Linked DNA regions of Homo sapiens: all the other regions are linked to region 1. The links come from fine-mapping of genetic effects on gene expression. A gene starts in region 1. Each other region holds a variant in brackets. All regions are shown on one strand. Distances are between the middles of the regions. Region 1 holds the start of ZNF655 (zinc finger protein 655). Region 2 overlaps ATP5MF-PTCD1 (ATP5MF-PTCD1 readthrough). Region 3 has its middle 30 kb from the start of MYH16.

Region 1 (10,755 bases):
CTTTTCTTTGGTACTGTGTCACTTAGCCTCTCTCAATAATGCAAGTAACTTTCTGTATGTTGGTGGCACAAATGGAAATGAATGTGGGGCCATAGGTTTTGCTTAGCTGAATGTTAAATTCAGTCTATCGGCAGATTCCAAAATTGGAAGAGACCTTGAGATAATCTATTTTACTTTACTTAGGACACATTTGAGACTTGGTGGGTCTATGTGTTTCATCCAAGAACATCAATGGCAGAACTGGTACCAGTCCCCAATGGTCCGCTGCACCGTCCACAAATTCCCTTCTCTCCTTTATCCCTCGATGTCAAGCATAGATACCTCCCACAACTGAAAACCCCCCATGTCCGAAATTGCTCATTTAAAACCCTTCCTGGCAGGGCGTGGTGGCTGACCCCTGTAATTGCAGCACTTTGGGAGGCCGAGGCGGGCGGATCACCTGAGGTCAGGAGTTCATTTTCCCAGCCTGGCCAACATGGCGAAACCCCGTCTCTACTAAAAGTACAAAAATTAGCCGGGCATGGTGGCAGGCGCCTGTAATTCCAGCTACTCAGGAAGCTGAGGCAGGAGAAGCTTGAACTCGGGCGCTGGAGGTTGCAGTGAGCCGAGATCGCACCACTGCACTCCAGCCTGGGCGACTCTGTCTCAAAAACAAAAAAACCAACCAAAGAAACAAAAAGACCCCTTCCTAAAGTCTTGAAAGGAAAGGGTGAAGTGTAAATGAGCTTTTCCTATTATATCCAAATCACTTCTTTATTCAGTAGGCTTCAAACATTCTCTTTTTTTGTTTTTGAGACAGAGTCTCACTCTCTCTCTCTGTCTCCCAGGCTGGAGTGCAGTGACGCGATCCTGGCTCACTGCAACCTCCGCCTCCCGGGTTCAAGCGATTCCCCTGCCTCAGCCTCCCAAGCAGCTGGGATTACAGGCGTGTGCCGCCACGTCTAATTTTCTGTATTTCTAGTAGAGACAGGGTTTCTCTAGGTTGGCAAGGCTGATCTCAGAACTCCTGGCCTCAAACGATTCGCCTGCCTAGGCTTCCCAAAGTGCTGGGATTATGGGCGTGAGCCACTGCGCCCGGCCTTCACTCTAATCACCACCATAATGGTACTGGGTTTGAGGGTGAACATATCATCCGCGGACACTGGCTTAACGAGCCCATCCGAATAAAACAAATTATAAGGCCAATGGCACTTGGTATCGTGTAAGATCGCCAGAATTTTACAACTCGGGGTACCCAGGAAACCAGAAAAGCCCCCACCACAAGAAAAACCAGTGGGCACAACTGGGGAGCACAGATATCTGACTGGGGTCATTTTGTCCGCGCGTCTTTGGGGTAAAACACCAGGACTGGGGGTCCAGAAGGGACACGCAGACCGCCTCTCTCCAGTCCCAGGGGTGTCTCCAATCCGGAAACCAAAACTTCGTTCCCTTCCCACCTGTATCCAGGGACACCTCTGCTGGGGGACAGCGCTTGCCACCGCCGAGGCTGGCGCGAGGAACGGGGGCACGGACCCGCTTCCACTCCGTCCCGGGCGGTCGTGGCGAGGGGATTGCAGGACACAGCCATGCACGTCCAACTCTGTCCCCGCCCGGAGAAGTCTGGGATGCTGGGATAGAAGGGGTTGTGACTTTGGGGACCAGGAGCACTAGACTCACATCCAAGCCCCCTGGCCTTCAGAGCCCAGGGAAAGCGTCACAAAAGCCGGAAGTGCGTCACACCCGCCTTCCGGAGCTGCGCTCCGCTTCGGGGTCCTCTCTAGGATCGCGGGAGGACTTTGCATCCCTGTGTAGGGCTCTAATCTCGGGTTTGGGGATCTTGCTCCTCAGCTTGTCCGCTCCGAGGAGGTGCACAGGGCGGGGAAAAAGGGATGAATTTCCCTTTATACCGCCCTGCTCAGATATTTATATGTTCCTTCTATTTTTCTTGATGACAATAATTGTAATAGTTACAATAAAAATAGTGATTGTCTGTGGCAGAGGAGCTGAATGAAACGAGGGTGGAGACAGGAAGATCAAGAATAAATGGTTTCACAAATCGAAGGGATTGTCTCTTGAGACGCTGATTATGTACGTATTGCCAGTTGAATGGGCAGTATTTTCAAATACTTGATCTATAGGCAACAGACGTTCTTTCCAACACTAGATAGTTATAAAATTCTGAGTTTGCCTTATGTTTCCAGGGAGTTTTCAGATTAGCAACGGTGAAATAAGTTGAATTTGAGGCGTTTTTGCTGTCCAAGTGTTATTGTAATAATTAGGGCTTCTATGATTAGATCAAGAATAACTTCACCTTTTATAAAACAGTAACTGAGACCTTGAATGGCTGGGGCATGACTCTAAAAGTTCTGGGCAAGTCTGTGGTACAGCCCAATAAGATAAAAGCCTACAAAAGGAACGGCTACCTGATACAGAGCCTATGATTACGTGGTATCCCGAATTACCTTCTAGACCCTCACTAATGCTCCATTCCTTAGGGGGTTTGATCTTGCTATGGTTGCCATTTTCTACCTACCCACGAGTCTTCTCAATAATCCACTTAAGTGCATCTTTGCTCCATATATATATATACACACATATATATACACACACATATATATACACATATATATACATGTATATATATATACACACACATATATATATATACACACACATATATATATATATATATATATATATATATTTTTTTTTTTTTTTTTTTCCTCCTAGGGCACCGTCAAATCCAATCTTTGCTCCTTTATCACTGGCTGGCTTTCTAACCTACAGTCCTCCGTGATGACATCATAGTCTCAACTTATTCCTCCAGATACATCCTCATATTTCCTTCCAGGGTTCCAAGTCATCGCTAAGAGTCATTACATTGCTACACACTGTATTTTTCTTCTTTGTCTAAAGTCTCTCCTCCCCACCCGTCCCCATTCCTACACTGAAGTGCCTAAAGGGTCCAGGAAGGCAGATTACTGAATGCAGTTGACTGGGTATATGATTTTGTATTTATGTTGTGTGTGTGGCAGGAATTGTAGGCATCTCTATAACGACTCCTTTCTTTGCCTACGGACCTACTGGCACAAGAAACTCAAAGTGGCCTGGTGGTATTCTGTTTTCAGTTCAGTGGCACGATTTAATGTTTCCTAGAGGAAATGTTCTTCCTGGAAATGAGGATCATAACCCAGCTGGCTCCAGATTTCGGAGCGAGGAGGCACAAATTCTACAGGTGAGTGGCTGGGTGTGATAGTAATAGAGGCTACTCCTGTATGCACATAGTCCTACTGGAGACACAATACTATATATCCATTTTGGCCCAATGCATTTCAGCGCATATACCATATTCTGAAGAACTGCTCCCAACTTTGCAAGGCATTACATCTTAATCGCAATTTAGCCCAGTCTTCAACAGGCCATTCCAAAACCCTATCTGGCTAGCTGCTTCTGGATGATGAGTATGCACCATGAATTTTGTAGCTTCGAGTTCACTGTCACACCTCCTTGGCTATCGGTGGGTTCCTTAGTTTCAGGTATGTCAATGGATAAGGCACCCTGTAAGCTCTCAGATGGTGGTGCTGCTGGAGGCAAAGTAGTTGGGGAAGACAAGCTCATTTAGAGCATATATCAATTCTGGTAAGAACAAATTGATGCCCATTCCAAGGTAAAAGGGATCTGATGCACTCAACCTGGTGGTAGCTGGTATCTCTAAGACTCAGTGTTGGTCTCTAATGCTGGCAGGCTGGACACTCCACCATGGTGAGAGTTACATCAGCCTTGGTAAGAGGTAGACCATATTGGCCGGGCACGGTGGCTCACACCTGTAATGTCAGCACTTTGGGAGGCTGAGGTGGGTGGATCACAAGTTCAGGAGTTCGAGACCAGCCTGAGCAACATGGTGAAACACCGTCTCAACTAAAAATACAGAAATTACCTGGGTACGGTGGTGTGTGCCTGTAGTCCCAGCTACTCGGGAGGCTGAGGCAGGAGAATTGCTTGAACCTGGGAGGTGGAGGCTGCAGTGAGCTGAGATCACACCACTGCACTCCAGCCTGGGCAACAGGGCGAGACTCCGTCTCAAAAAAAAAAAAAAAAAAAAAAGAAAAATAAGAGGTAGCCCATATTGTTGGGACCACGCACAGCCTCTATCCCTGCTACCATGGTCTCTGTTCATAAGCCTATTGCATAAACAATAAGATGGTCCCTAACCAACAAGCCAAGCCATTCATCACTGCCTAGGAGTCAATGCATATCCCTACCTTAGGCTACCTCCTCCAAAATATGGCATGGGTGACCAAATGTACCATTGCTCACTGAGATAATTTTTCTTCACCAGTATGCTTCAGGGCAACGCGAGTGGGGCTGTAATGAAGAACAGTCTGTTTCTGGAAGATGCCAACATGCTGAACTGACCCAATCCCCAATCTGTGCAGAGGCCAAGGCTCTTCTGTCTCCATCAGTTAGTTGTAGGGAACTTTTATAAGGCCATAGGAGTAAGTTTATGGGAGAGGTGGCAGTAGAGCAGAGGTAACTGACCTGGGAGTTTGGAAACGTGGGTTTTGTTTTTTTGCCTTAGAAGGCATGACCTTGCTCCAGAATCTTAGGTATTTGTGCTGTGACTCTTTATGATGGGTTGAATTGTACCTCCACCTCATCCCCAATTAACAGGTTGAAGTTCTAGCCCCTAATACCTCAGAATGTGAAATTATTTGGCAATAGAGGCATTGCAGATGTAATTACTTCAAGATGAGGTCATAGTGGATTAGGGTGGGTCCCTCATCTAATGACTGGTATCCTTATAAAAAAGGGAAGTTTAGAGATAGTACACAGGGAGAATGCCAAATGAAGATGAGGGTAAAGACTGGGAAAATGCTTCTTACGATGCCAAGGAATGCAAAATATATCCAGCAAATCCCCAGAAACTAGGAGAGAGGCATGGACAGATTCCTTCTCACAGCCTCAATAGGAACCACACCTTAATTTCTGACTTCTAGCCTCCAGACTGTGAACCAACAGATTTCTGTTGTTTAAGCCACCCAGTTTGTGGTACTTTGTTATAGGAGCCCTAGCACACGAATGCACACTCTTATTGGGGTTTGCCAGCAACTCCATACAGCACCTGTATCCATCAAGGATATTTCTGGAACCACTGAATTTGCAAGTAAGCTTGCACTGTTGCTTGGATTTACTATAGAGTGCTCTCTTGCCCCAATAAAAAGTGGAAGCTGGCCAGGCATGGTGGCTCACGTCTGTAATCCCAGCACTTTGGGAGGCGGAGGTGGGTGGATTGCTTGAGGTCAGGAGTTCAAGATCAGCCTGGCTAACATGGTGAAACCCCTCCACTACTAAAATACAAAAATGCTGGGCATGGTGGCGGGCGCCTGTAATCCCAGCTACTAGGGAGGCTGAGGCAGGAGAATTGCTTGAATCCAGAAAGCAGAGGTTGCAGTGAGCCGAGATCACGGCACTGTACTCCAGCCTGGGCTACAGAGCAAGACTCCGTGTCAAGAAAAAAAAATAGTAATAAATAAAAAGTGGAAGCTTTTTAGGTCACCTAATACATGTGTTGGAACAGTTTTCTCAGGTGCAGAATATGCTACCTCCCAAATCCAAAGGGGCCCACCAGGACCTGTACCAATTTTTTTGGGATTAGAGGGTGCAAGGTGGAACAACTTTCTTTTACCTTTGGGTGATGTCCCCAAACCACTGGGCCCCACCAAAACTTCATCCATTTGATAAGTGCCCATATCTTCAGGTTTCTGTACTGCCTTAGTAAGAAGTCTTACTAGGATATTTATGACCCTTGTCACTTGCTGCTCACTGGGTACTACTAGCATTTGTCATCAATATATGGACCATCATGATGGTTGGGTAAAGTTCCTGCGGACTACACTGTGACAGAGAACAGGTCTCAGGATCCCACCCTCTCCCTGTATGAGCCACGACTTTGACTCAGGGGACCTGCCGAGTCTGCACAATTGGTCTCCTTTACATTACTGTCACTGTTACAAACAGATCCTCGGCCTAATTTTCAGCTTAGCTAGATGCAGAATTACCTTAGTAATTTATAAAAAATCAGCTATTGTATGTATCTAGATCTATTTCTGGACTTTTTTTTCTTTAAGAAATTCAACCTCATATTTCTGGACTTTCTGTTCTGCTCTGTTGATCTATTTGTCTCTATGCTGATACCATACCATCCTGATTACTGTACCTTTAGGAAAAAAATCTTAAAAAAATACAAGTATTCCAATTTTATTCTTTTTCAAAATTGTTTTGGCAATCCTAAATCCTTAGCATTTCTATATAAACTTTAGAATCAGTTTGTTAATTTGCACTAAAAAAAACAAAACAGGCTCGGTGCAGTGGCTCACGCCTGTAATCCCAGCACTTTGGGAGGCCAAGACGGGCGGATCACCCGAGGTCAGGAGTTTGAGACCAGCCTGGCCAACATGGTGAAACCCCATCTCTACTAAAAATACAAAAATTAGCTAGGTGTGGTGGTGCCCACCTGTAATCCCATCTACTCTGGAGGCTGAGGCAGGGAAAATGCTTGAACCTGGGAGCTGGAGGTTGCAGTGAGCTGAGATCGCGCCACTGCACTCCAGCCTGGGCGACAGAGCAAGACTCTGTCTCAACAACAACAAAAAGACAAAAACGAAAAAAGGTAACAATTTTTTGAGTTGTTTCCACCTCTGTCATCTGGCAAACTGTTAAAAGAAAATTTTGCTCAAAAGCAAAATAGCAGCTGCTGTTTCTTAACACTTTGTTATGTTTTGATGAGTACTGGTGGGAAGTGGCCTCTTTAAGTGGGTACCTTTTGTGGTCCTCTCACTGGAGCCAATTGCCTGAGTCAGCTAAAACTTGGACGCGATGTGCCTCACTGCCATAGCTCACTCACCTTTGCTGCTGAAATGGTTTCCCATCACATTGCTAATAGGTACAACCTGTGAAGGGTTCTAGGTGGGGAAATGGCAACTCAGGAAGAACTCCAAACCTTTAGCTCTCCTAGGATATTAAAATGGCCGTTATGAAGAGGAAGAAGTACTGTGTCATCTATTGTCCTGGGGACCTGTCAACAGGAACAATAGATAGACATCACCAGGGGTGTATTTCTGTTCAACACAAGGAAAAGTTTCTAATTGGAGCTGTCCAGCATGAAATGGACTAAGCAGTGCATTTTCTTTCTCCGATCCTGACTCCACTGTGACGGGCACTGCAGACTAGAGAGATTGTGTCCTAGTATGAATTTAGGTTGGATAAATGATACTTAGGGATAAAGAGAGGAAAGGAATATCAGAATCTCCAAGAAGCTGATACATTTTGAAAAAATATATAAAATGCCACACTTCAGGTTTTCTTGTGTTTAATTTGAAACGTCCAGTAACATTAAAGAACAGCATTTGATTTGCTTAAACAAAGTAGTAACAGCTGAAGTTCCTTCCAAATCACTTTTCTGATTCTCTAAGAGGCTTGCCTATGCCTTGCAGATCTAGCTTCACCTACAAGACATATTCTGTAAGGATCCAGGTTCAGCAAGGTGTCAGAATGTCCTAAGGGTTTCTGTCCCGGCGCTCTGCCTGTCCCGCTTGTGCACAATGCTTTTGCCTATCCCTGTTTCTGCATAGATTTTAGTCTTCCCACCAGGGACGCAACTGTCAGTTTCCTCCGTCTCTCTCGGTTCTATTCCAATCTGCTCATCTCCCCTCCCGTCCCCGCTTTCCCCAAGGACCTACTGAGATTTCGATCCCACAACTTAGTGGGTCCCATCTCACCCAGGCCCCGCAATCCTCGCCTTCTACTTGTCAGCGTTGTACTACACTCTGAGCAGGCACCCCTGTGCTACTCACGGAAGCGGGACCATTAGGTCGGCCATTCCTCCTCACCCCACGACACGCACCCACTGGGTCGGGCCGCCTCCTTGCAGGGAGTCTCAAGGATGGGCTGGCGTCAGGGAGGGGCCCAGGGGGCGCTTTCCCAACACTGGTCGCAGTCATTGTTGGTATAACGGCTAGAGACGCCCAGTGAGTTAGCATGGAGGGCAGTGGGACCGGAAAAAGACGTGGAAAAGCTGCGAAAACGAGCCTTCGAATCATGGACGCGCGGGCCCAGCTCCTCCTCCGAGTTCCTCATCCGGGGCCGTCACTCACATCCGGGGCCCTCACTCACATCCGGGACCCTCATCCGGGGCTCTCACCCACATCCGGGACCCTCATGCCTGGGCGGAGGAGGGGGGGCCCTCATTCGGGACCCTGCACTCCGTCGCCGGAAGTGCCACCGAGAAGCGCCGGCCTCGGGGCTGTCTACAGCGGCCCGGGAGAGGCTGTGGTGGCCCCGAGCGCGAGTGTGTAGGTGACAGGACAGCGGCCAGGCCCGCCCCTCCCCTCGGTGAGTACCCGGAAGCCGTTTTGGGGTCGCAGCGGGGTGGCAGCTTGTTTTGCCTTCACGGGAGTAGAAGGAGGCGGCGTCCGGCCGCGGCCGACGGTAGTTCGCTTCCCCGAGAGTGCGCGGAGGCCCGGGTGCGAGGAGGGCCTGTTTCTCTTCAGCCCTGGTTCATTCACCTCGCGGACCGAGGGCCCCGCCGTCAGGAGCCGGCGACCGTGCCCTGGTGCGAGCTGGTCTGTATGTCCTCACTGGTCCTTTTGGGACTTTGCCTTGGCCTAAAAGGGAAGTGGGAGGAGGGCAGCGCCGGGCAAGGCCTTCTGAGGACCGAGCTGGGAGCCGGGCAGGGGCCCAGGGCGAGGGTGGTGGGAGGGGGACGGCACCCTCATGCGTCCTTGGGCCTGAAGGACGCCGCTCAAACCTGTTCGAACCGCAGCTCTTACCTGCGTTGCTCTCAGGATTCCGGGAAAAGGCCGGTCTAGCTGGTCTGAGTTAGCGAAGGGCCTGACCCCAAAAGTGGAGTTTTATTCGCCAAGCCCGTGTAGTAAATCGGAGTGGGCTGACGGTGTTACCAAGACATTTCCTAGGGGGCCTGCTGTTTTATTTATTTAAATGAGTTTATTTACGTAAACGCGGGCCTGTCACGGTGGTTCACGCCGTAATCCCCGCACTTTGGGAGGCCGAAGTGGGAGGATCGCTTGAGGCCAGGCGTTCGAGTCCAGCCTGGGCAACATAGCGAGACTCCCATCTCTGCTAAAACAAAATTAAAATAAAATGAGCAATCATAACTAGCATTTTTCTCTGGGCACCAACTTGAGCCTCCAAAGACGATTGTAAATTTTAAATATTTTGTTTTGTTTATTTGAGGTGGGCTGTCACGCTGTCATACAGGCTGGAATGCAGTGGCGCAGTCATAGCTCACTGCAGCCTCTACCTCCCAAGCTCAAGCGATTCTCCTGCCTTGGCCTTTGGAGTAGCTGGAACTACAGGCCTGGGCCACCTAATTTTTTTTTTTTTTTTTTTTTTTGTAGGGACGGGGTTTCACCATGTTGTCCAGGACGGTCTGGAACTCCTGAGCTTAAGGGATCCACCCGTCTGTGCCTCCCAAACTGTTGGGATTACAGGCTTGAGCCACCGCACGTGGCCAATTTTAAATATTTTAAAGTTTCCACAGAAAGCTTTACACTATTAAATTGTACCGTGTTAATTTTTTTAATGCCACAAATTCCAAATTAGAGACTCTTCTATGATTTGGTTCTTAAGTATTTAAAGCTGAAGCATATCCATATTTCTTTTTCTTTTTTTTCTTTTTTTTTTTTTTGGGACGGAGTCTCACTGTGTTGCCCAGGTTGGAGTGCAGTGGTGCAATCTTGGCTCACTGCCACGTATGCCTTCTGTATTCAAGCAATTCTCCTGCCTCAGCCTCCCGAATAGCTGGGATTACAGACCCGCACCACCACGCTGGCTAATTTTTGTATTTTTAGTAGAGAAGAAGTTGCACCATGTTGATCAGGCTGGTCTTGAACTCCTGACCTCAAGTGATCTTCCCGCCTCAGCCTCCCAAAGTGCTGGGATTACAGGCCACTGCGCCTGGCCCCATTTTTCTGTTACTTATTTAGGGTGGTTAATCATTATCAACTAATTTTTATTGAATATCCATAGTGTGTAAGATCCTTTGCAAAGTCCTGACGATATAAAATGATGAAATGCTTTAACTTATTACAGTAATTTCTCTTAATCTTACCTTGCAGTGATGGTCATTGTCCTCCAGAGCAGTGATGGAGGAAATACCAGCCCAGGAAGCAGCAGGGTCACCAAGGGTCCAGTTTCAGTCTTTGGAGACCCAGTCTGAGTGTCTGTCCCCAGAGCCTCAGTTTGTGCAGGACACCGACATGGAACAGGGACTCACTGGGGGTAAGGCAGAGAAAGCACTTCCGTCTGGGAGAGTGGGAGTGCGGAGGGGCTCCCGAGGGGGCTCCTGGGCCTGGTTTGAGAGAGGCCAAGAACTGGAATAAGAACATGGTCCCTAGAGGGAGGAATGAAAGAGGGGGCAGATGTGACTCAGTTCAGTCCTAGTCTGAGCCCCTTTATTAAGGATAGCTCATCTTTCTCAAATAAGCAGAGTGATGGCTGCTTACTCGCTGTGGTGGTTTTTCCTTCAGGCAACCTTCACTTCATCCCAGTTCTCACATCCAGAATAATTTCTAAGATATGCTGCTTTTGCCACATCTCACAGTCCTTTCCTGGCTCTCACTTCCTCTTAGGTTCAGGACCTTTCTTTCCCCTGTTCCCTTCACTTAGTTTTTCTTTGCTTTGTCACCTGCCATCCATTCTGTTGTAACTGCAGTGTTTTGTGACTAGACTAAATTTGGTCAAGGAAGCAACCATTTA
Region 2 (9,388 bases), 100 kb before region 1:
CTGAGAACCAGGGTGCAGAGGGGTCCGCTGGCTGCTCAGTGCCCACACTGTCTCTGCCTGCTTTTCCCATCTTTCTATTCTCAGAGGAGAACTCTGGCAGAACCTGCCAGCCTCAGCCAGCTTTTAGGGGACAGTGTGGCTATTTTCTGCTCATCTCTTTTTTTTTTTTTTTTTTTTTAAAGACATAGGGTCTCGCTATGTTTCACATACTGGTCTTGAACTCCTGGGCTCGAGTGATCTGCCTGCCTCAGCCTCCCAAAGTGCTGGGATTACAGGCGTGAGCCACCACGCCTGGCCCCGCGCATCACTTTGGAGTGCTTCAGTGTTTGGAGCTCTTTCAATCACTCGGATTTGAGGCTAACGAGGGTGACCCGGAAGCAGCGAGTTGTGCAGCTGGCTGCATTATGTCCGTGGTTGGTTTCTGTCCACGTCCACCTTCTCCCTGAAACCCACTTCTCCCTCCAGCGTGGGCATTGCCTCTCAGGCCCGAGCTGGTTCCTTCTCTCCAGGAGCCATGATCCTGGTGACATCTCAGCCATCCTAAATAGCCCTTCAAAATAACAGCCTCAGATGTGTCTTCTGGTAGCAACAAACTTGCCTTGAGCCCTGCTTAGAGAATGCGTGGCCTCAGCTGTCCTGAGTGGCCTGCGTGGAGAAGCGGGAGCCCGGGTGGAGTCAGTGGGGCTGGCACGGAGTCTGGCAGAGATGTGCTCCCTGCTGGAAGGAGTCCCCAGGGTCCCCGCTCAGGTCTGCACTTCCAGGTTTCCCGGGAAGCAGCTCTGTGGGTCAGCGTGAGGCTGGCTCTGGTCCTGTGCAGGGAGCCCGGCAGGAGGCTGGAATCCTGCAGGGAGCCAGGGAGTGCAGGGTATGCTTCATGCTTTCAAAGCACTGCTGTTGGAGGAGACATTAATTATTTCAGCATCCCATCAGGCGTGGCCTGCTGGCTTATCAATGAGAGCTGTGGCTTGTTTTGTGGAGGTGGCATAAGCTGAGAAGAAATAGGACCCAAGCTTCCCAGCTCCCCAAGTGCTGTCCCTGTCATTGTGCAATGTAGCATGTTCCCCCCGATGCCTTGCCCATAGCAGCACTGGGGCAGCACTGGGATGGGGCAGTGGCCTCCCATCTGTCCCCAGAGGCAGCAGCTGGCTCTCCTGGGCAGGCTCTTAAGGCACCGCTATACAAGTGGCCTGAGGGTCGCTCCTTCCTTGCTGACAGCCCTGGTGCAGGACGCACTGTCTGCAGCTTCTGTCACCTGCACCACAGACATTGGGTTGAGGGCCCCCTTTCCAGGCACTGGAGGGACAATGGTGAAGAGGTCCTTGCCCTGTGAAGCCTTCACTCTTGTGGTCCAGGGAAAGAGGTAGCTGATAGGCCATGAGACGAACAGAGAAGAAATTGCTTGTGACAAGTGCTTTGAAGGAAGGAAACCGTGACCAGAACCTTCTCTAGGCTGAGTGGTCAAGGATGAGGGGATTCCTGAGCTGGAAGCGGAAGACTAAGAAGGGGCTGGTCCTGGTACAGGGGGACCCATGTGGCTGGGGGGTGGCAGAGGCTGAGCCTGCGGAGGGGCCTGGGGAAGGAGTTTGCATTTCCTCTGGATTTTGAGCACAGTTGTAAACATGGATTGGAGAAGGTGAGCCTGGAAGCGGGCAACTACTCAGGAAGGCGGTTCTTGGTGCTGGTGGTCCCTGGGGTCCGCTGCTTTGGAGAGGGCCAGGTCCACAAGTGCTTCCCCTACCCTTGTCCCAGCTCTTAGATGTGAAGAGCCAATCAGAATGGAACTTCCTGGTCTCAATGGGTGCATTTCCATCACAGCTCCGCTGCACAGGAAGCTGGGGCTCAGAAACACTCTTCCCTGGCTCTCAGGGCTCGTCAGGCCAAAACTGGACACCAGAACCTCTTTTCCTTGGATGAAGCCAAGGTGGGCCTGGCCCCGGCCTTCCCAGTGGTCTCACGTCTGAGTTTCCCTGCAGGGGAGTGCAGCAACAAGGAATGTCCCTTCCTGCACATCGACCCCGAGTCCAAGATCAAGGACTGTCCTTGGTATGACCGTGGCTTCTGCAAGCACGGTAGGTGCCAGGGTGGGCTGGGCCCCGGGCAAGAAGCCAGTCCTCCCTTCTCTGCCCACGACCCTGGAGGCTGCCAGCTGGTCTACCTGTCCCAGCAAAACCTGACATTCTGCAGCTAGCGGCTTTCTCACACTCCTCATCTCCCTTGCCTCTCCCAAGAATGCTGGGTGGGTGGTGGTCCACCCGCTTTTTTGATAAGGAGGCCAGTGTTGGGAGGTGAGGTCCCTGCCCCGTCTCCCATGAATGGGGGACAGCCAGCATTTGAAACCATGCTCCAGCTCTCTAACTGGTAGAGGGGACATCTAAGTGACCGGACACTTGGCTCTGCAGGTCCCCTCTGCAGGCACCGGCACACACGGAGAGTCATCTGTGTGAATTACCTCGTGGGATTCTGCCCGGAGGGGCCCTCGTGTAAATTCATGCAGTGAGTAGCCAGCTGCTCCGCCCTCTACCCCAGCTCCCGGCCCAGGCCCTGCTGCCCTCCGTATCTTCCCTGGGCCAACTGGGCCTTGGTCACTGGGTGATGTCAGTACCAGGGCCAAGGGTGGGGGCAGGAGATGGGGAAGTAATCCCTGCTTATGGCCACCAATGCTTCCTGAGCCCGCAGGTGGCTCTGCCTAGACCAGGAGCTGATCTTTCTTGGGTCATGGGCCATCTGGTAATGTAATGGAAGCTGTGGGATACAGACAAACATGTAGCCTTGCATATCATTTAGGGAATTTGGGGACTTCCAGTTAAGAACCTGTGCCCTAAAGGAAAGAATTTCAGAGCCTCCCATGTGGAGGCTCAGGAAACCCTGAGCTTGGGGTTTCACATAGAATAAGTAGTCGTCTAACAGTGAGGGTAGGAGAGAACGCACCCATTTCACACAGCAGCACACTGAGGCACAGGGCTCAGTCCCTGGCCAAGGGCACATGGTAGCAGGTGGTGGCACCTGGTCAAAGGCAAGTCTGGGCTGGGTGTGGTGGCTCACGCCTGTAATCCCATAACTTTGGGAGGCAGAGGAAGGCGGATCACGAGGTCAGGAGTTCGAGACTAGCCTGGCCAATATGGTGAAACCCCGTCTCTACTAAAAATACAAAAATTAGCCAGGTGTAGCGGCGCGTGCCTGTAGTCCCAGCTACTTGGGAGGCTGAGGCAAAAGAATCACTTGAACCCAGGAGGTGGAAGTTGCAGTGAGCCAACATCGTGCCACTGCACTCCAGCCTGGGTGACAGAGCAAGACTCCATCTCTAAATAAATAAAATAAATAAATAGCAAGTCTGTGAGCCTCCGAAGACGGGTTTTAATTCTTGCTCTGTGGGGTTAGCACCCCTCTTGTGGCTCCATTTTCTTGTCCTTGGAGCCCAGTGCCCATCTGTCACTTTGGTTGTGGACCTGGGCTTCTGCCTGGGGTGGCACTGGGGCCACAGACAAGCCTCCCTTCCTCCCGGCTGCCTCGCCCACACTGCTGAACCTACAGCAGGATAACAGTCTCCAGGTCTGTGGGAACCCTGGTCCCTGCTTCTCACTGCAGGGAAGTGGCCGGTGCTGTCACTGGGTCTCACTCCCTGAATGAGAGTGCAGGCACCTGCAGGTGGCTCAGGGGCAGACCGTCACCAAGTGATGGGAGGAGGGGCTGACGCCAGAGTAAGACCCTGCGGGGAGGGGGGCTTCCCTGTGTACAGCTCCTGTGGCGCAGCAGGCACGCACCAGCACAGCCTTTGTCATTTCCGAGAAGCACTGGCCATGAGTCTCCCAGCTCGGTGTAGGCAGGGTTGGGTCTGAGCCCAGGCAAGTCAGTTCTGTTCTCCCC[G/A]CCACTCCTGTGGCCTCCCAGGAGCAGAGCTGAGTGCCAGCCACCACCCCATCCATGCAGCTTGTGTCAGTCACTTTGTGCTGGGGCAGCTGAGTGTGATTTTCCTAGGGCTGGAATTTAAGAGCATGGCCTGGCTTCTCTTCTCATCCCCTGACCCCACTCCTTCTCTTGTTCTCATCCCCTCTGGCTGCTGGTGACCAGCCCTCGATTTGAACTGCCCATGGGAACCACCGAGCAGCCCCCACTGCCGCAGCAGACACAGCCTCCAGCAAAGGTACCGTGCCTGGCCTTCCTCGGTAGGAAGGAAGTGCCTTTTCTACAGCGAGAACCTCAGTGTCCCCCAGGGGTGTGGTCTGCCTTAGACCCCGCTGGACAACTTGGGAGAGGAGGGGAGTCTCCCAAGTTCCCGAAGAAAAGTCAGGAGCAAAGCCGTGTATATCTCCCTCGAGAGACGGAGGGCCTCTTGCCCTAGAACCTCAGCAAGGCCAAGCGCAGCAGCAGACACAGTCCAGGCGCCGTGCAACTGGCCACCCGTTGTGAGATGGGGCTAACCTGGTTCAGCAGCGTCTGCCCCTGGGGCTGGCATGGAGGGCGGCCTGGGCACCGTGTCTGCTGCTCTTGCTCCTGGGTCAGACCCTTTATTTTGCAAATAGGGAAACCGAGACTACCAGAGGGAGGGACCTGCCTGAGGTGACACCACTGGGCAGGAGCAGGTGTGGCAGCAGAACTGACCACTCTGGCCAGCACCGCCCCTGCTCCTGTGGAGTGGAGGTTGGGAGGAGGCGCGAGAACAGGCCCGGCTGGCTCCAGTTTTCTAGATGAGGGGCCCCACAGCCAAGCAGCTGGTCCGTCCCCTCAAGCACAAGGAGAGGGGGAAATGCTGTAGACACATGGGGATCTGCAGCAGCCTCTCAATGCCAAGGGCACCCTGAGTTTGGTTATGGGAGTCGGGAGTTGAGCCAAGAGGAAGGGCTGGCGTCAAGGCAGGGCGGGCATCAGGCAGGGTTCCCAACAGGCCCATCAAGCCCAACCACCTCCTGAGCCCAATGCCTCACCTCCTACCCTGCTGGGCTCTGGACTGGCTGCCAAAGCCCCACCAGCCCCGCTCAGTGCTAGAGGCTGAACAGCCAGGAGAGGATGCGGAGGATGTAGCTGCGTGGAGGCGCCAATCACATTGAACTCTTGATGGGGAAAGCCGGGAATTCCAGGTGTAGGTGCAGCCGTGCCAACCTGGGGGTTTTCTAGCTCGGGTTCTGCACTTACGGGCCAGAGCCAGGAGCCCACCTGGTGGGGAGGAGGCCCTGCTGTGGAATCCCTACCCCAGGAGCCCTGGCCCTCCTCCTGGTGGGGCTCCCTAGAGGAGGGTCCTCTCAGCCCGAGAACGCAGCTCAGTGTGTCAGGCTCCAACTGTTTTTCTGTGACTTGCTCGCCGTGTAGGCTGCTAAACATCTGGCTGAACCAAGCGTTCATCCTGACCTGAAGCCAGAACCTCAGAAACCAAAGTAAGGCCTGATCATGCCCTCGCCCCACTGCCCCAGAGACCTCCTCTTGTCTCTTTGATGTTTTGTTTTCTATTTTATTTTTCGTTTTTGTGTGTCTGCATGGTGTTTTTCGGGCAGTGGCTTCTGCCATCATCACCACATGTTTCTCTGCTGCCCACTGTCCTGAGGTGGGCCGTCGTGGAAGCCCTGCTTCCTGCCGTTTGCGGGACGAGTCCCGCCCTCTTTTTTCCTGTCCCCATCGGTAGTCTGCGTGCACGTGTTTTCCACAGTAAAACCGTGTTGTGTAACTCTTTCCAGCAAAGTAACAATCCGCCATTACAAAGGTCGTCCTCCTTGATCCAGTTAACGAGTCAGAACTCTTCTCCCAATCAGCAGAGAACCCCGCAGGTCATCGGGGTCATGCAGAGTCAAAACAGCAGCGCGGGCAACCGGGGACCCCGGCCACTGGAGCAGGTCACCTGTTACAAGGTGAGTCCCTGGGCTGGGGGACAGGGTGGGGTCTTCCCTTACCGTCAGTGGCCATTCCCTCATGCCCCATGTGTTTGGTGAAATGAGAAAAATGAAAACATTCATTTTTGCTGATTGTAAGCATAAAGTTACAGTCTAGTTACCATCCACTGTGGTGGGCTAGAGACTGTCCTATTTCCTACCACACTGCACTGAGGCACGGTAAAGGATGGTGAGAACGCCTGCCTAGTGAATGGACGGGGCCTGCAGGCAGGTGAGGGAAGCCCCCAAGAGGCCGGGAACAAAATAGAAACACTGATCCAGGGAAGGGTGAGCCCTTGGAGCCGCTGGCTGTCCTGGGGGCATCCTTGGATCCTGCAGGGCACACCCGAGAAAACAGGACACTGGGTTACAGCACCCCTGTCCCCATCCCCTCCCCCAGTACATAAAATGGGACTCAGGAAGGGTGAGCTTCAAGAAACCTCCTCGAAAACTGTCCTGTTCACTCCTGGCTCTGTGGGAAGCGGGGAAAGGGGAGGAAAATCTCTTGATAGTTTGACGTTATTAATGGGCCCTTATGTGAGTCTAGGCCTGTATTCATGTCCTTGGTTAAGGCTGGAAAGTTACAAACTAAGTTTTCTAATCTAAAATCGCCCCAGGATTGGTGTGTCCCTGGCACGTGGCAGGAGTAACCCCCAGTACTCTTTGAAGAGTATGTTCTCAACCCAAGGCGCACACAATTCCTACAGCTGGAGTTCTGAAGAATGAGTCCAGATTAAAAATCACAAAACAGGCTGGGTGTGGTGGTGCACGCCTGTAGTCCCAGCTACTGGGGAGGCTTAGATGGGAGGATTGCTTGGGCCCAGGAGGTCAAGCCTGCAGTGAGCTATGACTGCACCACTGCACTCCAGCCTGGGCAACAGACTGAGACTCTTTGTCTCCAAAAAAATAAAAGAGCATGGAAGTGGGGCACTGTGTAGAGCAGACTTAGCTGTTATCTTGCCACCCTCCAGGCCTGTTAAGCGGGGCCACTTCTGTGCAGCAAGCGCCCTTAAGTCCTGGAGCCTTAGAAAGGTAGGGCTGACCGCCCCTGTCCACAGCCTGTCACCCCATTAATGTCAGAGACACTTCATGTAAGTCCTGGATTCCCCAGAGTCAGCTGTGGGGTCCGACAGACATGCCAGATGCCGTGAGCAGGGTGTGTGGTCCCTCCCCCAGCCATCATGTTAGCCCTACAGCCCATCGGCAGCCTCTCCATACAGAGTCACACCTGCAGATCAGACAAAGTTGAAAACACAGGGACAGCTGGGTGCGGTGGCTCACGCCTGTAATCCCAGCACTTTGGGAGGCCGAGGGGAGCAGGTCACAAGGTCAGGAGTTCGAGACCATCCTGGCCAACATAGAAGAAAGAAAACAGGAATTGCAGAGCCAGGGAATAGAGCTGGCAAGAGTGTTGGGTGCCAACTGGGCAGAGCCCCTCAGGGCAGCAGGGACTCAGGGGTGGGTGTCAGTACAGAGTCAGTGCCCCCAGCTGCCTCCTGACCCTTTTGTTCAGTGCTTGAGGCTGCCGTTTTAGGAGTCATAGAGTAAAGAGAAGCTATGGAAGGGCCTGGATAATCAGGACTGGGATGAGGCAGGGTCAGGGCTGGATTTGTCATGTGGCTCTGCAGGCTCCCCTTACCCAAGTCTAAGCATCGTCCCATCTCTCTGATCCTGTAATCAAAACCTGTCCCCAAGGTAGCTTAGGTGTGTCACAGCCACGAGGGAAAACGTTGGGTACAGCCCACCCTCTGTCCCCAGCAGTGGCTCCCCAAGGGAGGGGAGGCTGGGACACTTCTGATGCTGTTCCCTCCCATCTCCTGCCAGGGAACCCCAGACCTTGGCTCAGAGGTAAGTGACTGGCCTGTGGTGCAGAAGGGCTTGGTCCCCAGACGGGGTGGCGGAGCTCAGGTGCCACGGGCTTCTCTTTGTCCTGCTACCCACTTGGGAGTCCCTCCCTGGGCAGGCCATGTGTCCAGGTGGGAGAGTTGTGGGCCTGAAAGAGCAGGTCGCTAGCAGGTCGCCTTCTGGCGGCCTTGTTCTCCCTTGCATCTGCGGAGTTGCTGGCTAGTTTCTGCACCACTGCACTTTCCATCCTGAGCTCCCTCACCCTCTAATTTGAAAGAAACTCTGTACCACTGAGAATTTCAGAGTCATGTCCCGACTGGGGACTTGGTGGATGATTTGGGATTTGGTGGGCACTCCCTTAGTTGAAAACTGCATTTGAACAGTGTTGTTGTCTGTCTCTCCTCTTCCCCCACTTCCTGCTGTTCCCAGTGTGGCGAGAAAGGACACTACGCCAACAGATGCACCAAAGGGCACTTGGCCTTTCTCAGTGGACAGTGACAGCAGCTGGAGCCAGCTCCGAGCAGCCCGGGGGCCCCGCTGTTGGGAGTGTGCATTTAACTGTTTCATGCGCTTGTTGGCGCGACTGTGGCTCGAGCTGGCCCGCAGACACGTGGGTTTCATCACTCTGAGGGGCCACGTCTGTTAGTTTCCTATCATTTTGCCTTAGTATTTTTTGAAAAAGGGACATGTGTCCTGTGGGTCCCTGCAGTCGACATCATGTTTGGCTGGGCATCGATGCCTCCTTTCTGGGACTCCCGGCACAACTCCCCTCATCCAGGGAGGGAGGCAGCTGCTGGGGAGGGGCTTGGCTAGGTAGTTCTGTGTGGCGGTGGTCATTCCCCTCATTAAACACCAGTTCTTGGTGACGCCAGGGGCTGGTAGGTCATTCAAAGCTGTGGCCAGCTCACGCCTGCTTCCTCCCTCCCTGCCCTGCTGAATCCTAAAGCTGTGCCTATATCTGTGATTTGAATGAGGGAGCCCTTTGGGGCAAATTCAGGTGCCCCCATTGCCTCAGGCTGGCCCTGGTCCCAGGTGGCAGCGGTTGAGGAGGGGTACAGGGCTCTCAAGCCTGAGGTTTTCTTCTCTGGGCTTAATTTTCTCTTGGGGTACGTGCCTGACAGTGTTTAAGGTGTCCGTTGAACTGGAGTTGCAGACTTTTAAATAGATGACCCCTTCAGATCATCTGTGCCTACCTCCTGCCCATCAGGCGTCTACACTGTCACTCAGACACCTGTGGCATGTGGAGGAGACTGCCCTGTCCTGAGCCTGGAAAATGTGAAACTGTCTCCTGCAACCTGCTGGGCATGTGGGCCTGGCTGTGTTCAATTGCAAGAACAATTTTTATGAAATGGATTAAAGCTTGTTTTTTAAGCCATGTCTCATTAATTAAGGGTCTCATGCCAACCCTTTTACACTGGCTGCAATCACGGCGTAGCTTTCTTGTCCCTTTCAACAAATGTCAGCCTCACAAAGGGAAGTGCAGCTGCCCAGAAGGCCTGCAAGCAGCTGGTCAAGTCTGGGAGTCTGATCTGTGGAGCCAGCAGGCAGGTCCTCCACCTCAGCTCAGATGTCTGGTGGCACCTATTTCTGGGGCACAGTATCCCACCCCCAATGAGGCTCTGATGAAGAGGAAGCAGGGAGGGGCCGCCATAGCCCCTCACTTTTCCCCATCACCCCCAACCCACTAA
Region 3 (10,755 bases), 310 kb before region 1:
AATAGGCCATTCTTCAATCCTTGCCTCCCTCCTGCTCTCCCCCATCTAGTAGTCCCCAGGGTCTATTGTTTCTATCTGTCTGTACCCAATATTTAGCTCCCACTTATAAGTGAAAACATGTGGTATTTGGTTTTCTGTTTCTATGTTAATTCACTTAGAATAATGGCCTCCAGCTGCATCTATGTTGCTGCAAAGGACATGATTTCATTCTTTTTTATGGCTGCATAGTATTCCATGGTGTATATGTACCACATTTTCTTTCTGTTTTTGGCTTTTTTTTTTTAAGACAGGGTCTTGCTCTGTCACCTAAGCTGGAGTGCAGTAGTACAATCATGGCTTCCTGCAGCCTTGACCTCCCCAGCTCAAGCAATCCTCCCGCCTTAGCCCTGAGGATAGCTAGGACTACAGGCACACATCACCATGCCCAGCTAATTTTTTAATGTTTTTGTAGACATGGGGCCTTGATATATTGCCCAGGCTGGTCTCAAACTCCTGGGCTCAAGCTGTCCTTCCACCTTGGCTTCCCATAGTGCTGGGATTATAGGTGTGAGCCACTGTACCTGGCCTGTACCACATTTTCTTTATCTAATCCACCACTGATGGCCACCTAGGTTGATTCCATGTTTTTGCATTGTGAATAACACTGCAGTGAACATACAGGTGCATGTGTCTTTTTGGTAGGAAAACTTATTTTTCCCTTTTTTTAGATACCCAGGAATAGGATGGCTGGGTTGAATAACAGTTCTAAGTTCTTTGAGAAATCTCCAAATTGCTTTCTACAGTGGCTGAACAATTAGCTTCTTTCTTATTCTTGGTTATGAAAGCCTAATAGCACCAAGACAGACAAGGTGACATGAGAGAAGCAAGCCTCTGTCTTTCTCGGGACATTGACTTCAGCCTGTGAGCCTCAGCAGCTTGTCTCTGCTTCCCCCTACAGCACCCAGGGAAGTCCTGGTTCCTGCCCTCAGCTCCTTCCTGCTCCATCCTCAACCAAGCCACCATGCCTGGTGGGTACAAAGGGGAGTGTGGGGACGATGTGGACCCTATGCCTTTCCTGGCACCTCCTGAAAAGGAGAGGATTGAAGCCATGAACAAGCCCTATGACATTAAGAGGTCCTGCTGGGTCAAAGATGAGAAGGAAGGCTTCGTCGCTGGGGAGATCCAGTCTGAACAGGGTGACCAAGTCACCGTGAAGACGATCACCAACCAGGTGAGTGGGGCACGATCTCCAGGATGAAACCAAGTGGCAGGCACCCAGGCCTTTTCTAGGCATGCTCCCGCCCAGAAGGCAGGGTGGCAGAAAGAGCAGGTGCCTCCGAGTCCCATGTGCTGGGGTCAAATCCAGACTCGCCTACACTCAAGCTGTGTGGCCCTGGGCAAGACGCATTCCCTCTCTGAGCTATATCACAATAGAGATTCCGAGACAGATCACATGAAAGCACTTCATAGACTCTAAGACAGTACCGTGCGTAAGGGATGATCGTGAGAGTTACTTATCTTTGATGTCTCAAACAGCTCTCAAGTGGAAGCTATTTTCTAAGCATGAGAGTGAGCATGTCACTTATGAGCAGTGTCACTGTGTGCCATGGCCCCTGGTGGCATGAGGGCCATGAGAGAGGGCACAGAACACCCTGGCTCACTGGGTGAGCTCTTCAGCTGCATGAAGAACAGATGGTGGTTCCCAGGTCTCTTGGAGCATGGGGGTGGTGTGCTGGATGTGATGGCTTCCGATGGCTTTTAACGTGTTGCAAGGACCCAACCTGGCTAATGATGGCTTGCAGGGACTCAACCTGGCTTATCGTGGATTGCAGGGATCCAACCTGGCTTGTGATGGTTTGCAAAGACCCCAACACTAAACAATGAGGGATTTTACAGCCAGTTGTTAAACCTTGGGTAGCTTGCTATCAGCCGTGATGGAAGTATTTATACCATGGAAATGGGAATATGCTGTAAATCAGGGACACTTCCCCCCAGACAGCTGGTTTACCAACCCACCCTTCTCTCTGCTGGCCCACACTACGTCTGACTATGAGATATGACTTGAGAGAATGGATAGAAAATTTGGCTTATTAGGCTAGGCGTGGTGGCTCACACCTGTAATCCCAGCACTTTGGGAGACCAAGACAGGAGGATTACTTGGGCTCAGGAGTTTGAGACTGTCCTGGGCAACTTGGTGAGACCCTATCTTTATTTTTAGAAAATAATAACAATTTTTATTAGAATTTTTTTAATTTGGTTTATTTTAAATGGGTAAGGGCAGGGTCTCTTGTATTCTTGGCAGACCCCTGGTGAGGCACTTGACACTTTGTTTAATCCTTTTGGCAATCTTATGTGGTAGGATTTATTGACCCTATTTTGCAGAGAAGGAAAACTGAGGATCAAGGGCACTTTAGGTGACCTGTGTACGTTGCAAAAATAGCAAATGATGAATTTGGATTCAAACCCACTGTATCTGGCTCATATGCCCATGCCCCTTCTATGTCACCATTCCATCCCTTCATGGTGGGCTGCCAAGAGGGAGGCATGAGCCATTGCACCCGGCCACTTTTCCATTTAAGAAAAAAGACATTACTCTGCTCCCTCCAAACCGCCTTCAAGGATAAAATTGAGAGCAAGCAAGCAAAGAAAACAAAACAAAACAAAACAAAAACAAAAAACAGAGCAATGTGTGTTCAGCAATAAATATATTAGCACCTGCGAGGTCCATTCCTGGTTAATTTCTTGATTAAAAGAAGTCAGAGGCCAGACGCGGCAGCTCAAGCCTGTAATCCCAGCACTTTGGGAGGCCGATACAGGCAGATCGCTTGAGGCTAGGTGTTTGAGACCAGCCTGGGCAACATAACGAGGCCCCGTTTCTACAAAAAATTAGCCAGGTGTGGTGCATCCCTGTACTCCCAGTTACTTAGGAGGCTGAGCCAGGAGAATCGCTTGAGCCCAGGAAGCTGAGGCTGCAGTGAGCTAGGATTGCACTGCTGCACTCCAGCCTGGGTGACAGACAGAAACCTTGTCTCAAAAAAAAAAAAAGGAAGCCAGAGACCTCAGTGATCAGAACTGGCAACAGCTGTATTTTTCTCTGCGCCTGTCTTCGAGAGGAGCAGTGGTAAAAAGATATAGTTGGGTGGAAATGGATTTGAACGAAAGTCAAGCTTAATTCCCAGGAGAAACAGTTTTCAGAGAGGAGAGTGCTGCAGTGTCGTGAGAAGTGATGGGTGATGATAGTGGAGCCCCAGGGTGCATCTAAGTTTGGATCCACATTTAAGGACAACACAATTTCCTTGAGTATCTGCAGCAGACAGTGCCGGCCAGCCGGGTTTGGGACAGAAAAGATGGAGCCTGTGGCGCTGGCTTCCCTGGCTCCTAAAATAAAGGCCAAGTTCTCCATTCCTCTGCTGAAAGCGAAGTGTCTGCACGTGGACGAGGACCAGAGATCTGGAAACCCCTGGAAATGAATTCAGAATAAAACCCAGCTTGAGGCCAGGCATGGTGGGTCACGCCTGTAATCCCACCACTTTGGGAGGCCAAGGAGGGTGGATCACCTGAGGTCAGGAGTTTGAGACCAGCCTGGCCAACATGGTGAAACCCCATCTCTACCAAAAATATAAAACTTAGTCGGGCATGGTGGCCTGCGCCTGTAATCCCAGTTACTTGGGAGGCTGAGGCAGGAGAATTGCCTGAACCCAGGAGGCGGAGGTTGCAGTGAGTTGAGATCACGCCACTGCACTCCAGCATGAGTGACAGAGTGAGACTCTGTCTCAGAAAAAACAACAAAACAAAAACAAACAAACAAAAAACAGCTTGGTTTACTAAGGGCGTGGTAACCATTACGGGGAGTGGGGGTGGATTTTCCAGAACTGTCAAGATTTCAAATTATCTGCCTATTGTACTAATAAGTTATTAAAAGTCCCAGAAATCCCAGTATGGATTCAGGCCTCACATCTAAGGTTGCAGGCAGCCAAAAGGTATTTGTTTTCTAGATCGTATGTCTTCAGCTTTGATCCCAGATGCTGGAGCTTCTTAAGAGCTGGCACTAGTTTTTTTTTTTTGTTTAGTTTTGTTTTGTCTTGCACTATCACCCAGGCTGGAGTGCAGCGGCATGATCTCCGCTCACTGCAACCCCCGCCCCCTGGGTTCAAGTGATTCTCCTGCCTCAGCCTCCCAAGTAGCTGGGGTTACAAGTGTGCGCTACCACGCCCAGCTAATTTTTGTATTTTTAGTAGAGACAGGGTTTCGCCATTTTGGCCAGGCTGGTCTCGAACTCCTGACCTCAGGTGATCCACCCACCTCGGCCTCCCAAAGTTCTGGGATTACAGGCATGAGCCACTGCACCCGGCCTAGTTTTCATTTATAGATGAAGAAATTGGGGTGCAGCATGGGGAAGAGATCTGCCCACATGGCACGGGCGCGAACACACCTACTGATGAATGCTCATTGCTGGTTTCTTTTTTTTCTTCTTTTCTTGCTTGCTTTCAATTTTATCCTTGAAGGTGGCTTGGAGGGAGCAGGGGAATGTCTTTTTTTCAAGTGGAACAGTGGCTACATGTGGTGGCTCACACCTGTAACACTTTTGGGGGCCAAGATGGGAGGATCATTGAAGGCCAAGAGTTCAAGACCAGCATAGGCAACATAGCAAGACCTTGTCTCTAGAAAAAAAAATTAAAAATTAGCCAGGCATGGTGGTGTGCACCTGTAGTCCCAGCTACTCGGGAGGCTGAGGCAGGAGGATGGCTTGAGCCCAAGAGATTGAAGCTGCAGTGAGCTATGACTGTACCACTGAACTCCAGCCTGGGCAACAGAGCAAGATTATGTCTCAAAAAATAAAATTAAATTAAAAATTTAAAAAGGAAAAGTTTGGCTGGTCTGAAGGTAGTGAGTTATCTCAATTGATTGTGCATGGTCAGTTACAGATCAAAATCCTTGTTCCACTCTTCCCCCCACCCTTCTCATTACTGCACTTAGTCTTTAAAAAAGAGAGAGAGAAATGGAAAAGCTCATCGCTATTTCGAAATCACCGCTAACTCTCAAGGCAGAGAGCCAAGAGTCACATCTCTGCAAAGTGTCCATGGGATCAAAGAATAAGCTCTGATCATCTATCAGGATGGATTTGGCTGGAAGAGAAGCAGAGCCCAGAGGTCTCTGTAACATAGGGAGGGAACGTCATAGTTTTTAAGGTATTTTTACATGATTCCACTTAAGTTCATATAATTCTCCCAGCAACCTGCCAAGGAGGCTACTGTCATCTCAACTTCAGAGAGGAGGCAGTTGAAGCTGCATTGGCCTCAGAAGTGCCTCCCCATCCCAGGACACACAGGGGGATGTGGCTGGACCAGGACTTGGGTCCACTGGATGCTCCACTCCATCTCCTGGGACTCCAGAGGGTATGTGGTGACCTGGGCCAGATGCCCCATGCCCCATGCCTGATGCCTGTGCTGCTGTGTCTTGACCCCCCCAGACACTCACTGTGAAGAAGGATG[A/C]TATCCAGCAGATGAACCCACCCAAATTCTACCAGGCCAGTGACATGGCAGACATGACCTTCCTGAATGAGGCCAGTGTCCTAGACAATCTGCGCCAACGCTACACCAACATGAGGATCTATGTGAGTGCCAGGGATGGGGTGAGTGGGGGGAGGAAGGAGTGGCTGTAGATCTTCTGCTTTTCTTTTGTTGAGGAGGGGGTTGGCTACTCCACCCTCCCCAGCTCCCAGTACACATTATGACTTAGACAAAGGCACAGGGACCACGTTTCTGACATGTTAGAATTTCCACCCAAAGCCTTCGGCATCTCAGTAATGGCACCATCTCCGTGAGCAGCTTTTGCTGAGGCTGTCACCCGAAAATCTTCCTCCTCATGTTCCTCCCCTCTTCCTCAAACTCTCAAATCAAAACATCATTTTTCCCCTAGTGACTTCATGTGCCATTATTAGAAGTCCATCCATCCATCTATCCATTCATCCATCTATCCATTCATTCATCCATCCATCCATCCATCCATTCATCCATCTATCCATTCGTTCATCCATCCATCCATCCAAACATCCATCCATCCAAACATTCATCCATCCAAACATTTATCCATCCAAACATCCATCCATCCATCCAAGTATCTATCCATCCATCCAAACATCTATCCATCAACCCAAACATCCAAACATTCATCCATCCATCCATCCATCCATCCAAACATCTATCCGTCAATCTATTCATCCACCTATCCAAACATCGATCCATACATATATACGTCCAAACATCTATCCATCAGTCCAAACATCCAAACATTCGTCCACCTATCCAAACATCCATCCATCCATCAACCAAACATCCATCCATCCATCCACTCATCCACCCATCCAAACATCCAAATATCCATCCATTCATTCATTAATCAAAACACTCATCCACCCATCCATCCAACAAACATTGAGGAAATGTGACTTGTAGCCTGAGGCACTTAGGAAGGACAACCAACTGCATCCTTGAAGAAATTCAGTTTCACTTTGTCTGACATGATGACCAGAGTGAGTTACAATCAGTCCCCTGAGTGTCTTTGAAATCTTAAGACAGAAAGATGATTTCCTGAAGGTGTTGCAGCTTAACTCCCAAAATGGGTTGTCTAAGGACGTGTTGGTGTTTGCCTCTCTAGATGTCTTTATTTAAAAGGAAAGAGGCTTATCTGGTAGGAATAGGTGAGGTGCAGCCTGACTCCCAGGTCAGGAGCTGCTGGGGGTTCCCCTTCCCTGGGTCTATGGTTATAGTCAAGAGGGCTTCTGTGACCCCAGATTCATCCTCCTTTAATACTACTACTGTGGTTCTAGATTCAGGCCCCAGTAGTACCATAGCCCCAGGTGTTGCTGGAAGGTCTCTGAAATCTCTTGAAGATATTTGCTAGGTCTGGAAGTTAGCAGGGCATCCTTGAACCCCAGGTCTAGAAAGAGCCACACCCACCCCCGGCTGAACCTAGAGCCTGGGCTGAGAATGTCAAGGTACAGGCTCAAAGGTCAAGCTCAGGACCAGGGCTTACCTGGGGCTGCTCTGCCCGCAAGCCCTTGTTCCTCCTGGGTGACCACATCATGACTTTGGGCCAAGGGACTGCAGGCTTTGTGGAGTATAGCCTGAGAGACCAGGGCAGGGAGTCCCCTCCTACATTAAAGCGCCTCAATAGAGCCACTAATGCAACAACTCTAGCTGGCAAGGGCTGCTCCCATGATCCCAGCTGCTTCTCTCTCAATTCCTCCTGACCACAGCAGGGAGGTAACTGGCTTCCAGGATGCTGTCTGCCCCCACCCCACGGCTGAGACAGGCTGGAGGGGAAGAGTGACTCCATGGCTGGTGTCCCAGGATGAGACACTGTGTGTCATACTCTCAGCTGTTCCACTGGGTTTCCTTCATCGTCTCTTTGCCTTTTTTCCTGTGGATCAGTTTGTACTTAATAAGTTTCCTTTTGAAAATTCAACATATCCCAGTTATGCTAAGGAGGAGCTGGTGGCAGGGACAGGGGTGGATAGGGAGCAGTTATTCTTACTTGGTTCAAAATGGAAGGGTTTAAAGTTGAACTGAAACCAAGTACTTGGTGGATGCTTTAGAGGTCAATGTGACTGTCCAGCAAGGAGAAGAGAAATTTAAGATTCATAGATTTGGCCATTTCCTGTCTTCACTCATTCTTCCTGCTCTTAATTTATTTAATGATGTAATTGGTTTTTCTGGGGTTTTTTGTTTGTTTGTTTGAGATGGAGTCTCGCTCTGTTGCCCAGGCTGGAGTGCAGTGGCACAGTCTCACCTCATTGCAACCTCCGCTTCCCGGGTTCAAGGGATTCTCCTGCCTCAGCCTCCTCAGAAGCTGGGATTACAAACTTGCGCTACCACGCCCAGCTAATTTTTGTATTTTTAGTAGAGACAGGGTTTCACCATGTTGGTCACGCTGGTCTCGAACTCCTGACCCTGTGATCCGCCTGCCTCAGCCTCCCAAAGTGCTGGGATTACAGGTGTAAGCCACTGCGCCTGGCCTTTCTGTTCTTTTTTTTAAAACAGGGTGATTTCTTACAAAATTGCAATCTTGGAGTGAAAAGAAAGTTGGGGTCTCTTTTTAAGAGTAGGTCAAGGCTGGGCGCAGTGGCTCATGCCTGTAATTCCAGCACTTTGGGAGGCCAACGTGGGTGGATTGTTTGAGGACAGGAGTTCATGACAAGCCTGAGCAACACGGCAAGACTCCCGTCTCTACAAAAACAATTTTTTAATTATCCAGGCTTAGTGGGCACATGCCCGTAGTCCCAGCTACGTGGGATGTTGAGGTGGAAGAATCGCTTGAGCCCAGGAGTTCAAGGCTGCAGTGAGCTATGATGGCACCACTGCACTCCAGCCTGGGTGATAGAGCAAGGCTCTGTCTCTAAAAAAAAAAAAAGAAAGAAAAGAAAAAAAAAAGAGAAAGAAAGAAAAAAACAGGTAAAAAACAGGTGGTCAAACCCAGCTGCCACAAGCAGGGAACTGCATCCACACAGTGAAGATTCCACAGCTTTTGAATCACCCCAGAAATTCTCAATAGACTCTCAAGGAAAGCCAGATATATTAAGTGGCAAAAGCAAGATATAAAACAGTACTATAGGCTGGGCGCAGTGGCTCACACCTGTGATCCCAGCACTTTGGGAGGCTGAGGTGGGTGGATCCCTTGAGGTCAGGAGTTTGTGACCAGCCTGGCCAATATGGCGAAACCCCATCTCTACTAAAAATACAAAAATTAGCCGGGCGTGGTGGCGTGCACCTGTAGTCTCAGCTACTCAAGAGGCTGAGGCAGGAGAATTGCTTGAATCTGGGAGGCAGAGGTTGCAGTGAACCCAGATGGCACCATTGCACTCCAGCCTGAGTGACAGAGTGAGACTCCATCCACAAAATATATATAAATAAAAAAAACCATGGAAGGGAGTAAAAGAAACTAGCCCAGCATTTACCTGTGGTGAGGGTGGGGGTGGGCATGGAGCAAGTGGAGGGACCTTCTGCAGTATATATGTTACCACAGTGACAGTGTTACCTATTCAAATCCAGATGGACCCCAACTTACAATGGTTCAAGTTAATGATTTCCAACTTTACGATGGGGCAAAAGCAATACACATTCAATGCACTCCTCGATTTATGATCAAACCCATCGTATGTTGAAAATATCATAAATCGACTTTCAATACGATATTTTCAACATATGATGGGTTTATCTAGATGTGACCCCATCCTAAGTTGAGGAGTGTCTGTAATTAAACCAAAAGAAAACAAAAACAAATATATATTAAAGAGAAGCCTCATTTAGCTTAATGAACACAGACTCAGATAGTCATAAGATTTTGCCTCCAGAAGGCTGGGTTTCGTTGTTTTTGTTGTTTTTGAGACGGAGTCTCACTCTGTTGCCCAGGCTGGAGTACAGTGGCACGATCTTGGCTCACTGCAACCTCTGCCTTCCAGGTTCAAGCGATTCTCCTGCCTCAGCCTTCCAAGTAGCTAGGATTATAGGCGTGCACCACCACGCCCAGCTAATTGTTTCGTCCTTTTGGTAGAGACAGGGTTTCACCATGTTGGTCAGGCTGGTCTCCAACTCCTGACATCAGGTGATCCACCTGCCTCGGTCTCCCAAAATGTTGGGATTACAGGCATAAACCACCACACCTGGCAGAAAGCTTGCCTTCTTCACAGCTTGCTCTATGATAAGCTGGGGCCTGAAGGGAACTCCGCTGGGGGAAGAGGGTACCAGGAGGAAAAATCAGCTGACCATCTTCCCTCCCTCCCACCAGACCTACTCGGGCTTGTTCTGCGTGACGGTCAACCCCTACAAGTGGCTGCCCATCTACGGGGCCCGTGTGGCTAACATGTACAAGGGCAAGAAGCGCACAGAGATGCCGCCTCACCTCTTCTCCATCTCTGACAACGCCTACCACGACATGCTTATGGGTGCGTCGGGGTGGGCTCTGCTGGGGCAGGGGTGGCGGGAGACAAGCCTTCCTTTGCCATTGCGGCTCCAGACGCATTAAGACCTTGTGATACCCGATCCTAACCCTGACCCTGCACTACCAGTTGAAGTTCTTTGCTAAATTTTGAGCAGCAGCTGCTGCTACCAGGTGCCAGGGCTCAGTGAGTGTGCTGGGCACTTGCTAGGCACCAGCCCTACCTCACACCCTATCTCATTTAAGTTTCACAAACCCGTGGGATGCCAAGGTAAGTAGGTAAGTAACTTGCTCAGAGCTCAGTACTCTTAACCATTACCTCTATGATCTTTGCTGCATGTTATAGTGATTCCTCTATGTGATTTTTTTCTTTATTTTGAGATAGAGTTTCGCTCTTGTCATCCAAGCTGGAGTGCAATGGTGCAATAGCTCACTGCAACCTCCACCTCCCAGGTTCAGGCAATTCTCCTGCCTCAGCCTCCCAAGTAGCTGGGATTACAGGCATGTGCCACCACACCCAGCTAATTTTTGTATTATTAGTAGAGATGGGGTTTCATCATGTTGGCCAGGCTGGTCCTGAACTCCTGACATCAGGTGATCCACCCATCTCGGCCTCCCAAAGTGCTGGCTTTACAGGCGTGAGCCACTGCGCCCAGTCATGATTTTTTTTTTAAGAGATGGGTTCTTTGTTGCCCAGGCTGGAGTGCAGTGGTGCAATCTTAGCTCACCGCAGTCTAGAACTTCTAGGCCCAAGCAATCCTCCTGCTTCAGCTTCCTGAGTAGCTGAGACTATAGCAATGCGTCACTATGCCCAGCTAATTTCTTAATGTTTTGTGGAGA

Evidence for each region. PIP is the estimated chance that this variant, and not a neighbour inherited with it, causes the effect. A credible set is the group of variants that fine-mapping cannot tell apart.
Region 2: its variant is the best candidate, but not a certain one, in a credible set for the expression of ZNF655 in whole blood (INTERVAL, PIP 0.50).
Region 3: its variant is the best candidate, but not a certain one, in a credible set for the expression of ZNF655 in blood mononuclear cells (TOPMed, PIP 0.55).

What each region holds. Positions count from the first base shown.
Region 1 is chr7:99,550,418-99,561,172 of GRCh38, forward strand. ZNF655 (zinc finger protein 655) reads left to right here and starts at 8,225. Exons shown (of 3, transcript NM_138494.3): 1 at 8,225-8,370; 2 at 10,116-10,278. The coding sequence starts at 10,143. LOC105375422 (a long non-coding RNA gene) reads left to right here and starts at 1,748. Exons shown (of 3, transcript XR_927801.4): 1 at 1,748-2,067; 2 at 3,108-3,214; 3 at 4,319-5,540. It overlaps FAM200A (family with sequence similarity 200 member A), which reads right to left and starts at 1,697. Exons shown (of 2, transcript NM_145111.4): 1 at 1,437-1,697. RefSeq lists enhancers at 1,254-1,443, 7,870-7,999, 8,030-8,299.
Region 2 is chr7:99,448,303-99,457,690 of GRCh38, forward strand. All of the region lies in intron 2 of ATP5MF-PTCD1 (ATP5MF-PTCD1 readthrough), which reads right to left. It overlaps CPSF4 (cleavage and polyadenylation specific factor 4), which reads left to right. Exons shown (of 8, transcript NM_006693.4): 4 at 1,974-2,069; 5 at 2,400-2,493; 6 at 4,066-4,138; 7 at 5,664-5,834; 8 at 8,130-9,071. The coding sequence ends at 8,198. Among named protein-coding and RNA genes, the nearest start is that of ATP5MF, 13 kb to the right of the region's middle. RefSeq lists enhancers at 3,745-4,305, 7,420-8,222. The variant G/A (reference allele first, on the strand shown) is at 3,865.
Region 3 is chr7:99,237,829-99,248,583 of GRCh38, forward strand. It overlaps a transcript of MYH16 not described here. Among named protein-coding and RNA genes, the nearest start is that of MYH16, 30 kb to the right of the region's middle. The variant A/C (reference allele first, on the strand shown) is at 5,472.